3 separate regions of the Homo sapiens genome follow, and all the other regions are reported to be linked to region 1. Evidence: microRNA targets listed by miRTarBase, many of them from high-throughput screens and not tested one by one. Region 1 holds a microRNA gene; each other region holds the end of a gene's coding sequence.

Region 1 (4,231 bases):
AGAGTGGCTCGTGCCTGTAATCCCAGCTACTAGGGATGCTGAGGTGGGTGGATTGCTTGAGCCCAGTAGTTCAAGGCTGCAGTGAGCTGTGATTGCACCACTACATTCCAGCCTGGGTGATAGAATGAGACCTTGTCTCTTTGGGGAAGAAAAAAAAAAAAGTGAAGTACTGAAACATGCAATAAGCGTGGATAAACTTTGAAAATGTTATGCTGAGTGAAAGAAGCCAGACACAGAAGGCCACCTACCATATGATTTCATTACATGAAATGTCCAGGAGAAGCAATTAGTGATTGCCTAGGGCTAGGGCAGGAGTGGGACAGAGTAAAAGGGAGTGACTGTTAATGGGTACGGTATTTAGGGGAGATGAAAATGCCTGAAATTAGACAGTAATGATGGTGGTTGTAAAATTTATTTGCTGATGGTTACATAACTGTGCGGATATGCTAATAACCTTGAATTGTATACTTTAAAATAGGTGAATTGTAAGTTATATCTCAGTAAAGCTATAATTTTAAACAGACAGACACACATATATATTTGGGCATTTTTCTCAATGTCAGAATCATAAATGAGAACTCAGAGAAACTTGGGACACTTCTAAGCATGGAAGAAGTCTTCTTATTTGTCATCAGGGACTTTTTCCAGGTACCAGGCTATAGGATACATTGACTGTGATTTCAGATTAGATTAAATGATGATTAGAGTGAGTGTGACTGAGTACTTAGTTATACCCCTTTCTTAGGACAGATTTTAAGACTGCATTTGAATGAAGCTTTCTGGAAAGAAGATTAAGTGTTCTTCCTAGGATGCCATGCAGATATACTCAGAAAGGGAAGATGGTTCCCTTGCTCTGAGAATTATTTTTTGTAAACAGAAGCCAGTGTATTTATTTACAGAGAGCTCAGATAATCCATAAGAGAAAAGTTAAAGTAACCAAAGCTAGGTAGGGTAGCATGTGCCTGTTGTCCTAGTTACTGGGAAGTCTGAGGCAGGAGGATCACTTAAGGGCCAGGAGTTCAAGGCAAGCCGGGCAACATAGTGAGGCCCCATCTAAAAAACAAACAACAACAACAACAACAACAAAAAACCTTAAAATAACAAAGGTTTTTAAAATGTACATAAGACACTAGTAGACCATCTAAAAGATACACAGTGAGCTGGTAAACAAATGAAAAGATGTTCACCAATACTCTTAATTATTAAGGAAATGAAATGGATCCAAAAAATAGGATTACCATTTTTTACTTCACAAATTGATAGACATTTATTTGAATAGTGTTTTCTTAATAACAGCATTATTGAGATATGATTCACCTACCATACAGGCCACCTATTTAAAGTATACATTTCAATGGCTTTTAGTATATAGAGTTGTGCAGTCATCACCTCTATCTAGATATTTCATATCATCTTTATCACCTCCTAAAAAACCCCATACACATCAGCAGTCACTTCCCCTTTCCCTCTCTCACATCCCTCCAGCCCAAAGCAACTGTCAATCTGTTTGAAAAGTTGATAAGTTTTTCAGTTGGACCTGCCCTGGGCTTTCTAGTCTCAGCTCTCCTCCAGCTCAGCTGGTCAGGAGAGCTGAGACTAGAAAGCCCAGGGCAGGTTCATATAACAGCCAAGCAGAAAGATAGTAATTGTGTCTCCAGGATGATGAGTGTTTACATCCCCAACCCCATTCTTATTTCATCTTCCCAGCAGCACACAGTCAGAGATGGCCATTCTGAATTAGAAAGTCTCAAGTTAAACAGATTTTTCAGGACTGAAATGTAATTTAATCATTTCCTTCTTTGCAACTTGCCCTTTTTTACCTTCCCCGAATTAGCTTTTCTGATAGATTTGCTAATGATTCCCATTGTTCAGTATCTTCACTGAACTGTTGAATCATACTTTTCATTTCCCTTCTCCTAGAACAAATCTTAGAGAGAAGCTGTGAAGCTGTTTTGAAAAAAGATTCCTAATTCTTTCCAAGCAACAGAAGAGAAGAGTTTCTGAGAGAAGCAAAGGTAGAGAGATGCACAGAGGCTATTAGGCTTGGCAGAGCTCACCTATCATGTGACTGTGATGATTATTATGATTTTATCCCTAGACACATTCTGGGAGCTCTGGCCTACAAGTTGAAGACCTGACTCTGGAATGAGACTTGGCAGCTTAGTTTTTGCCATTGTTGTTGGCTGATAGTTAGCCAGGATCACTGGATTTAAGCTTCTTTTCCTCCTTGTTTTGTCTGTCATCAGAATAATCTTTATTTCTTCTTTTGCTCTAAGCCTCAATGAAAGGAATTTCTGTGGTTATATGATAGATATGAACTACCATGACTAGTATTGTCCTTATGAACAGCTGCTGTTCCCACTGTCTCCTAGAATGTGAATGAAAGTCGTGGCCCCTCCCTCTTTTTTAGGTTTATTAAAAGTTGAGTGGAAAATACAGACAGTTCCCATATACTCCCTCCCCTTACACCCACAGGCTTCCCCACTGTCCACACCAGTGTGGTACATTTGCTGCAGCTGATGAACCAACGTAGACACATCATTATCACTCAAAGTATGCGTTTACATTAGGGTTCATGCTTGGTGTTGTAAATTTCACTGGTTTTGGCAAATGTATGTGCCATGTATCCAACATTGTAGTAACATAGAAAATAACTTTACTGCTTAAAAAATCTCCTTGTGGCTGTACATGGTGGCTCATGCCTATAATCCCAACACTTTGGGAGGCCAAGGCAGGTGGATCTCTTGAGTTCAGGAGTTGGAGACAAGGCTGGGCAACATGGTGAAACCCCATCTCTACAAAAAATACAAAAAAAATCAGCTGGTCATGGTGGCACACACCTGTAGCCCCAGCTACTCGGGAGGCTGAGGTGGGAGGATCATCTGAGCCCAGAAAATTGAGGCTTCCGTGAGCCGTGATTGCACCACTGCACTCCAGCCTGGGCAATGGAGTGAGACCCTCTCTCAAGAAAAGAAAAAAAAAAAAAATCTTGTGCTCACCTGTTCGTCTCTGCCTCCCTGCAAACCAACCCCTACCAACTACCCATCATTTTTCTGTCTCTATAACTTTTCCTTTTCCAGAATCTCATACAGTTGGAATCCTATAGTATGTAGCCTTTGACTTCTTTCATTTAGTAACATGCACTTAAGGTTCCTCCATGTCTTTTTGTGGATTGATAGCTCATTTCTTTTAGCATGAATAATATTCCATTGTATGGATGTGCCACAGTTTATCCATTCATCTCTTAAATGAAGAACATCTTGGTTGCTTCCAAGTTTTGACAATTATGAATAAATAAATAAAGCTGCTATAAATATCCATGTGTAGGTGTTTGTGTGGACATTAGTTGTTTTTTTTTTTTTTTTTGAGACAGTCTCGCTCTGTTGCCCAGGCTGGAGTGCAGTGGCGTGATCTCGACTCACTGCAAGCTCCACCTACTGTGTTCAAGCGATTCTCCTGCTTCAGCCTCCTGAATAGCTGGGATTACAGATATGCGCCACCACGCCCCGCTAATTTTTGTATTTTTAGTAGAGATGGGATTTCACTATGTTGGTCAGGCTGGTCTTAAACTCCTGACCTCATGATCCACCTGCCTTGGCCTCCCAAAGTGCTGGGATTACAGGCGTGAGCCACTGCGCCCGGCCTATATTAAGTCTTGAAGTTGGGTTGTGTCAATCCTCCAATTTTGTGTTTTCCTTCCATATTGTGTTGGCTATTCTGGGTCTTTTGCCCTTTCATATAAACTTTAGAATCAGATTGTTAATATTCACAAAATAATTCAGGATTTTGATTGGGATTGTGTTGAATCTGTAGATCCAGCTGAGAAGAATTGACATTGTAACAGTACTGAGCCTTCCTATTCATGAACATGGAATATCTCGCTAATTTAGTTTTATCCTTTGTGATGTCTTTCATCAGTTTTGTAGCTTTCCTCCTATAGACCTTGTACATATTTTGTTAGATTTATACCTAAGTTTATTTTTTTGATGCTAATGTAAGTGGTGGTGTATTTTTAATTTCAAGTTCCAGTCATTCATTTGTTCATTGCTGCAATATAGGAAAGCAGTTGACCTTGTATCTTGAAACCTTGCTATAATTATTTAATAGTTACTGGAGTTTTTTTGTTGATTCTTTGGGATTAGACAGTGATGTCATCTGGCAACAAACAGATTTCTTCCAATCTGTATACCTTTTATTTACTTTGTTTTGCGGTGGGGGGTGGTTTCTGATT
Region 2 (4,231 bases), not on the chromosome of region 1:
CTCCTTTCTTTAAATTGAATAAATTTAGCTTTATGAAACATTCTTCATTACCCTTATTTTCCTGTTTCATTACATTTAACTTTGTGAACCACAAGTTTAGTCCAGCCTCATTTGGAATGATAGAAACCGAAGCCCAAAGAAGTGAAGTGCTTTGTCTAGGGATATGTAGCTGGTTTATTGCAGAGGTGGGACCAGAATGCCCGTCTCTCAACGCTACAGTCCGGTATTCATCCCTTTTGACTGTCTTTTCCGAAGCTAACAGTTGATACCACTTGTCCTCCTTTTGCAGATCCCGACTGGATTAAGAGGTTACTGCAAAGCCCCTGCCCTTTCTGTGATTCTCCTGTCTTCTAAATAATCAGTGACGGGAAGATGGAAGGGCATGATGAACTCTGCCATAGAAAACTTCCTCCAGCCTGAAGAGAAGGATGCACTGGAGGAAGCCGGACCCTCACGAGTGGAGAGAAGTCCTTGGTGATTGTAAAGAGGGCCCCTGGAGCTCATTTCTGAATCGCACTCTCCATTTCCAGAGACTAAAGGATGTCCTTTGAAATGGCTGGACTCAGAGAGTTGGAGTCGTTTTGAGATGAGCATTAGCCCCAGCTTTGTAACCAATGAGGAACACTTACTTATTTTTAAGTATCTTGACAGAAGCAATTTGAACACAGTGTCCCGTCATTTCTAGAAACAGAATGGTCTCTTCTAGAGAGCTTGGATAAGGACCTTGCTGGGTTGAGTTAGGTTTTAATCCTTGCTTTGGTTTGGAACTGCCTTCGGGCTCCAGAACTTAAATTGCTTGGTCCGTGGCATCTGATGTACCAACAGAGATTAAAAGTGTAAAGCAACACATGGGCTGATGTTTTGTTCTCAGAAAATAGCTGCTGGTCTGCATCCCTCCATTCTTGTTTTTTATGCATATGGAAAACATTTTCCTAAAACTCTATATTCTTAAGTTGAAGCCAAGACTAAAATTTAATGTGTCAAATGATCTGGTGACTATTATAATGAATAATTGTGACTTATTTTTCATTCTCTCCTGGGTCATCAGGTTTCCTGACCCAACTCCTTAATCCGTATAAAGATGTCAAATACTGTAGTTCACCCACGCCACAGCCCTGCTTCAGACTTAACTGTGGTAGCCTAGATGAGCTATTTGTACACAGAGGAAAAAAAGATATTTTCCTCTTTTAGTAATAAGACTTTCAGTATTTTTAATGTTGACATTTCCAGATGTTTCATTTAGTATCCAGGGGTCTGTCTGGAGACTTCTAGAGAGGGACAGCTCAGAAGTGAGACCCTTGAGCTCTGGTGCTGTAAGCTTGTGCAATTAAGTTGAACAGAGCCTGGGAATTTCTTTCCTCTGCACAGTCCCTTGATATTTGGAATCCAGGTTCTGCCCCCAACCCCTACCCACCCAGTGGTCTGTTAAGATGTCTCAGATGGGGCTGGGCTTGGTGGCTCATGCCTGTACTCTCAACACTTTGGGAAGCAAAGGCAGGCAGATCACAAGGTCAGGAGTTCAGCCTAACCAACATGGTGAAACCGTGTCTCTACTAAAAATACAAAAATTAGCCAGGCGTGGTGGTGCACACCTGTAATCCCAGCACTTTGGGAGGCCGAGGCAGACGGGTCACTTGAGGCCAGGAGTTCGAGACCAGCCTGGGCAATATGGCGAGACTCCGTCTCTACTACAAATACAAAAGTTAGCCTGGCATGGTGGCGCATGCCTGTAATCTCAGTTACTCAGGAGGCTGAGGCAGGAGCATCACTTCAACCCAGGAGGCAGAAGCTGCAGTCAGCCGAGGTGGCACCACTGCACTTCAGCCTGGGCAAGACTGGAGACTGCCTCAAAAAAAAAAGAAAAAAAATGTTGGTACTTAGATGATACCATGACGGCAACCTCCCCACCCCCACCCCGCATTGATAGGTAGTGCAGACCAGCCCTTGGAGGCACTTCTAAACAGTCTGCTCAGAAATGTTTTCTGTTTCCTATTCAAATTGCTGTTTTGTCTCCTATGTTTAATCATGTATTTGCTATTCTGCTTATTTTTCTCATTTGGTGGTAATTTCAAGAAGAGCGTTTATCCACTATTGATTTTCAAGAAAGAAACCAAGCAGCATTGAAATCATGAGTAACAGAATTCAGAACATTGTATGGTGGAAGTCATTTGTGTCTGCAGCTGTTTTTTCACTTTACAATAAATAAGAGTAAAAATTGAGATCATGTCAAAAAATTATTGCAGTTTTAATCATTATGGCATAGTTTCACTTCCCCTCCCCCCATTAGAATCAGTGGAGATTTGTTCTTACTAGGGAATTTTGGACTGCTGCCATTTAAAACTTAGGTTTTTATTTAAAGCAGTTGTGCATTTTTGAGAAAATGTATTGGGAGTAACTAGAGAGGATCTCCCAAATTTTTTTGTATGTCTCTCTAGGAGTAAACATGGCAACAGTTTTTCTAGAACGTGGACTCACTGCAGGGACTGGACCCAATGGCATTGTTAAGACCCTAAAATCTAGCCACCACCTGCCTCCCCCAGGTTTCCACACACCCAGTTGGAAGGCCTTTCCCTGCCCTTGTCCCTGTCTCACACCCATGGAGGTTAAGCTACAGAGCTGGGGAAACAGGAGATTTTGAGTTAATGGCAGCCTCACAAATAGTGCTTCTGAATTTCTCTGAGGGTCAGCATACCTCATGGGAGTGTGTTGCTCAGTGCAACCTTGGAAAAGTGGGAATGGCACCAGACGTTTTTCAGGTGCCTCTTGCAATTCAAACTTACATCCTCTATACCGTCCTAAAATTTGCCTGATCTTATTTGGTAGATTTCAAGTTGCTTTCAGCTGTGACCGTAATAACTGTTTCAGGAACTGGAGAAATAGTGGAAGTGCTATTGCCGCGCTGCATGTAAAGCACAGGAGCAAAGATTCGATACAATTAGACCCTTTAAGCTACAACGTGGTTGCATTTGGGGAGTCTGATACCCACATAGGTATCACATTTTCTCTGCCTGGGGTTAATTTGTTCTTATTATTCTAGGTAAGAAATTGATAGCTTGTTATGCTTGGTACTCATTCTGAAATCCCTGTGTGTCCACCAGGCAGACTTCAAGCAATCTCTACCTACTATTATATCTGCCAAAACTACCAATTATTTTTCAATGTCAGAAGTTATTAGAGCCACTGGCAAAGCTCATGGTTGAATATGACATTTTTCTGCTTTTCCCTCTAAGAAGTTTTTGAGAATGTTAATGTTGAAGTATGCAGGCTGGACCTACCAGCAAGTTTAACACGTTAATTAGGTTAAAAAGAATATTAAAAGGCAATAATTAAATATTTCAATTATTTTGTAATTATAATGGTATCAAATAAGATGCAAAAGAAGTTGATGCTTATTGGTGCTTAAGAGAATTACAATACTGGTTTTATGAGCATCTTTTCTCTGCAACAGTTAAACTGCCTCAGAGTTTGTGAATTGCTGCAATTCCTGGAATGGAAACAGGAATTAGGGTCACTGGTTGATTGGCACAGGATCTTTCCATCGTTTCTGCTCCTGACCTCTCTCTCTTGCCTTTCCTTCCCCCAGACACCCTCTTGGTTTCCATTCCTTTAGTTCCCTCTGCTTTAGAACACAGATTACATGTTGGAAAGAAAAATGGATTAATGGTAAAATTTCTAAAAGCTAAATTGTACAGTGGGGTCTCACTTCCTAGAAGAAACTATTGGTAATATTTCTTTCTAAAGGTAATAGTATTAATTGTATCTGGTTTTCTTCAAAACTTAACTATAATTTCCTTGTCAGGGTGCTCAGTAGCTCTTGGTTTGACTTTGGGCTAAGGGATGTGAAATTTTAGCTCCTTCCCACCACCTGTTTCCCCTCACTCCCACCCCCAGCCAATATTCTTCATAAGCAAAAATTATGGTTAAGCTAAGCTGAATGGGTTATATTCAAAGTAAGTACAGACGGCAAATAGGCAGACAAATACAGGAATGTCTTTACAATTAGCCCACCATGGACTGTTTTGAGTCTCTGCATGGTTTCCATAATTCATTATGATGTATCTTTATGCTCTTTCACTGCTCTTCTGTGCGTTGGAGTTTAGCAATTCAGTGAGACTGGGGAGTGTCTCAAGAATGGAACCTTTGCCTTCAAGGTTGGGTCATCAAAAATCCCTCTAAAGGATCTAACTGTAATGAACTGTTTTTATTTTTGCCATTAGTGCAAGTATCAACT
Region 3 (4,231 bases), not on the chromosome of region 1:
GCCTTCCGATTCCTCAGGCTCAACCTGAAGCCGGATCTCTCCGACACGGTGAGAAGCCAGGCTACCTGCTGTGGGAGGCAGAGATGGGGTGGCTGGAAAGGCCTCATGTGAACACTGGGGGGCTCTGTGGGGCCATGTGGCTGTTCAGTGTGTTGGTGCTTATCTGTTCTTCCTGGGGACAGACACCCTGTGCAGCTGGCCACAGAGGCCTCTGCGTCAGCCTGGTCCCAGGTGCTGTGGGTCGGAGGCCTCTGTGTCAGCCTGGTCCCGGGTGCTGTGGGTCCCTTCTCCTTGGCGATATCTGACACCTCCACGCTGACAGAGGGCTCTTCCCTGTGCCCCTCTGCAGGTCCGCTACACACAGCTCGTGAGGAAGAAGCAGAAGGCCCAGCACCGCTGCATGCGGCGGGTTGGCCGCACTGGCTCCCGGCGCTCCGGCTATGCCTTCTCCCATCAGGAGGGCTTCGGGGAGCTCATCATGTCTGGCAAGAACATGCGGCTGAGCTCTCTCGCGCTCTCCAGCTTCACCACCCGCTCCAGCTCCAGCTGGATTGAGAGCCTGCGCAGGAAGAAGAGTGACAGTGCCAGTAGCCCCAGTGGCGGTGCCGACAAGCCCCTCAAGGGCTGAAGGCCGAGGATGGATGCCCTGTGCCAGTGACCAGAGCACCCAGGGCTGGCCAGTCACTGAGGGAACAGCGTCTCGGAACTGCTGGTCCTCATTCCTTGCTTCCCGTCCCCCCGGTAGACTCTGTCCTGCTGGTCCCACCACACATGGCTGGGACATCTGTTCCCAGCTGTAGGCCCTTCCACCAGCTGGGGAGCTAGAGGGAGCAGGCCCAAGGGCAGAGCAGAGGCTGAGGCACGGGGAGCCAGCCCCACTCGGGGACCAGAAGTGGAACCAAAAACAAGAAAAAACTGTGAGAGATTGTGTCTGCCCCTGCCCTGCCTGGGACCCACAGGGAGACTATAATCTCCTTATTTTTTTACTCCTACTCCCCAGAGGGGCCCTAGTGCCTCTGTTCCTGAATTACATAAGAATGTACCATGCCGGGAAGCCAGAGACCTGCAGGGGCCTCGGCCCCTCACATCGTGTATGTCTCTCCTTGATTTGTGTTGTGTCCAGTTTGGTTTTGTCTTTTTTTATTTGGCAAGTGGAGGAGGCTTTTATGTGACTTTTATGTTGTGGTTGGTGTCTTAACTCTCCTGGGAAAAGGAGGCTGGCACACACTGGGATGCCGCAGCCTGGCCGGCTGTGGGGTGGTTTGGGAGGATCCATGTCGGCTCTGCCTGCAGTGACCAGTGCTCTGTGGGGCAGAGGAGCTGACCAGGGAGGGAGGTACCCATGAGCAGAGGGTAGTGGGAGAGTGTAAAGGAGGGTTTGGTCCTGTCTGCTTCCTCACCTTGAGAGTAAAGTGCTGCCCTCTGCCCCCAACACACACACATATCAATTCCTGGATTCCTTAGTCCTGCTGGCCTTGGGCTGGAGCCTAGGAAAGTGGCCCCCAAATCCTTAGTGAGCTAAAGCTGGGTCTGAAATTTGGTCAGTGGGGAGGGGTAGTTTTCTTTTCTTTTTTCTTTTTCTTTTTTTCTTTTTTTTTTTGAGATGGAGTCTCACTCTTGTCACCTAGGCAAGAGTGCAATGGCACAATCTCAGCTCACTGCAACCTCCACCTCCTGGGTTCAAGCGATTCTCCTGCCTCAGCCTCCTGAGTAGCTGGGATTACAGGCACACACCACCACGCTTGGTTAATTTTTGTATTTTTAGTAGAGATGTTTCACCATGTTGGCCAGGCTAGTCTTGAATTCCTGACCTCCTGACCTGCCCACCTCAACCTCCCAAAGTGCTGAGATTACAGGCGTGAGCCACCACACCCAGCTCAGGGAGGCGTAGTTTTCTTTAATTTTAAATTTAAACCCAAGTTTATTGGCAGACTCCCTTTTGACCTCCCTTTGCCTCCCCATCTGGTGCTTTCTTGCATCTACACCCCAGGGCCCTGTGGTGGGGCTGCAGGGGGAAGCTGTGCACCTGAGATGAGGCTGGAACGGGAATTGGCCTCTCTGCTCCCTTCTTCAGTAAGCAAGGAGCCCCGCCCCTCAGGCCCAGCCTCTGGCAAGAGGTGGTGGAATCCTTGTGCCGGGTAGTAGAGGAGGATAAGGGCAAAACCAGGCCCAGGCCAGTGCCTGGCTTGGTCTGGATGGGACACTGTCAGAGTTTGGCCACAGCCTGTCCTTTACTTCATCCACACCTATGAAGCTATTCCCTAAATAAGGCATTTCCCAAGTTAGTCGCTACCTAATCAGCCTTGAGAAGAATCCTTTCCTCTTCTTTGATAGTGGGTCGGGGGATTCTTCAGGAATGGTTTGGAGCTGGGAGTGGGTAGGGGGATTTTAAATGTTCCATATGGGAGCCCCAAAGGAACTGGATGGGCTGCAGTGAGGTGGGGGCGGGTGGGCAGGGAATGGGAGAGGGGAAGTCTTGGCAGGGAAATCCCTTTTGGCCACACAGTTTACAAACCCAGTATCATGTCTGTCTGTGTGTCTCTCAAGGTGAGAGTCTGATTTTTATACCAAAGAGGAAATGATTTTTTTTCATATTTTGTTTGTCTATATTATATAAATATATATATACAGTTATATATATATATATTATTTTTTGGTTCTCTCTCGTTTTTTAGGGAGGGAAGAAAGTACCAAGTTGCATTGAGCTGTAATTAAGGAACATTATAATTTATGACACATTTCTATACTTGCAAAAATTATATCATTTTATGGATATAAGAGAAAAATGCCTTTTTATAAAATTTCAATTTCTGAGAAGTGTGTAATTTGTCTCTTTTCTGATGTTTAACCAAGACTGGTGGTGAAAGTAAAGACAGAAACTGTCTCTTAAATGTAATTGAGTGGGTAGATCTGGGATATCTTGGACAAATTGGAATCTGACTGGTGTGGGATAGCACCTCATCCATTTGCAGACCTCCCGGGATCTGAGTTTCAGCTGAAGATGAAGACGGGGCAGTGGGTGGTACTGAGCGGCATATCGTATGGACTTTGGCTGGGTGCCTAGGACCTTGAGCTGTTTACCTTTCTCCAAACGCAGGCCAACCTGTCATCCCTAACACACGCCAGATGGATGTGTGTGTAGGGAAAGTACCTGGTAAATATTGTAAGGTTTTGTTTTTTAACTCTGCGCTTTTCCGCATGCCTCACATCTTCCTGGCTTCTCAAGTGAGTATCAAGGAAGCTAAAGTCTTATATTAAAGGGAGCTTTCCTCCAGGGAAGGGAGGGCGGATGAGGATGGGGTCCTAGGAGTCAGGGCCAGGGTTAGTGCTGGCCTGAGGAGAAAGAAGTATAGCTTCCTCCGCCGATGGCCAATATCAGCATGATCCAGCCCCACCCGCAGGCTAATTTCCCCCTGACCCAGCCAGTCTTCAGTTATGGAACAATCCTTCTCAAAAACGTAGACTGGGTGTGGTGGCTCAATGCCTGTAATCCCAGCATTTTGCGAGGCTGAGGCAGGAGGATCACTTGAGCCCAGCCCAGGAGTTCAAGACCAGCCTGGGCAACATGGGGAGACCCCGCCTGTATTAAAAAAAAAAAAAAAAAGGGTGGGGGAGCGGAGGGTGTATGGGGGGAAGATGTGAAGATAAGATCTGTTTCCCTCTTCAGGAGAAACGGCCCCTGGCGGGAATCCCGCCACAGACCGCCAGGAACACCACCTGACACCCACCTCCACCCAGGGAGAGGCTGTCCAGTCCACACAAGCCTTTCTTTGGGGTCTGTCTGGAACCCTGAGCTTTGGGCAGCAAGTGGCATCTGGCTTCAGTGCCCCCACCCCCGAAACACAGAAAGAAGCCTTAATCCCTTGAGGCTGGTGAGGCCCCAAGTCCACCCCTCCCACAAGACAGGTCTTCAGCACTGCGCTGGCCTCCCGTTGGGGGTCTGTTCAGCCACTGGGAATGTCTTCCTTGGCTCCTCTCGCTGACCCTGGCTCTCCTGCACCCAGGATCCTATTATGTGTGTCTGAGGGGCAGGGCCAATGTCATTTTAACTTTCATTGCCTCTTGGGGACGCGTTTTCTCCGTCGCGATATAGACACACGCCTCCACGGAGGCTCCGGGCACTCGGGCTCCCCGTTTTCTCCCCTCTGCCGCAGGCATCCCTGGTCTTCCTTCCCTGCGCTGACTGAGCACCTGGGCTCCTGTGGGAGTGGCTTCCAGCCCCTAGGTCCCC

Evidence for each region. Region 1 holds the annotated microRNA hsa-miR-3160-3p (AGAGCUGAGACUAGAAAGCCCA, at 1,544-1,565, opposite strand). A microRNA usually pairs through its seed, bases 2 to 8, with sites in the 3' UTR of a target mRNA and lowers its output. Matches are read on the target gene's strand: a 7mer-m8 pairs with bases 2 to 8, a 7mer-A1 pairs with bases 2 to 7 and ends in A, and an 8mer does both.
Region 2: miRTarBase lists GTF3C4 as a target of hsa-miR-3160-3p. Seed matches in the 3' UTR shown: 7mer-A1 at 1,280-1,286.
Region 3: miRTarBase lists ATP8B2 as a target of hsa-miR-3160-3p. Seed matches in the 3' UTR shown: 8mer at 1,651-1,658 and 7mer-A1 at 1,874-1,880.

Annotation. Positions count from the first base shown.
Region 1 is chr11:46,449,192-46,453,422 of GRCh38, reverse strand. It overlaps MIR3160-2 (microRNA 3160-2), which reads right to left and starts at 1,616; the gene lies at 1,536-1,616. All of the region lies in intron 11 of AMBRA1 (autophagy and beclin 1 regulator 1), which reads left to right. It overlaps MIR3160-1 (microRNA 3160-1), which reads left to right and starts at 1,534; the gene lies at 1,534-1,618.
Region 2 is chr9:132,688,592-132,692,822 of GRCh38, forward strand. GTF3C4 (general transcription factor IIIC subunit 4) reads left to right here. Exons shown (of 5, transcript NM_012204.4): 5 at 290-4,231. The coding sequence ends at 354. Among named protein-coding and RNA genes, the nearest start is that of GTF3C4, 20 kb to the left of the region's middle.
Region 3 is chr1:154,348,491-154,352,721 of GRCh38, forward strand. It overlaps ATP8B2 (ATPase phospholipid transporting 8B2), which reads left to right. Exons shown (of 28, transcript NM_001370597.1): 27 at 1-48; 28 at 350-2,814. The coding sequence ends at 628. Among named protein-coding and RNA genes, the nearest start is that of ATP8B2, 25 kb to the left of the region's middle. RefSeq lists enhancers at 1-824, 825-1,808.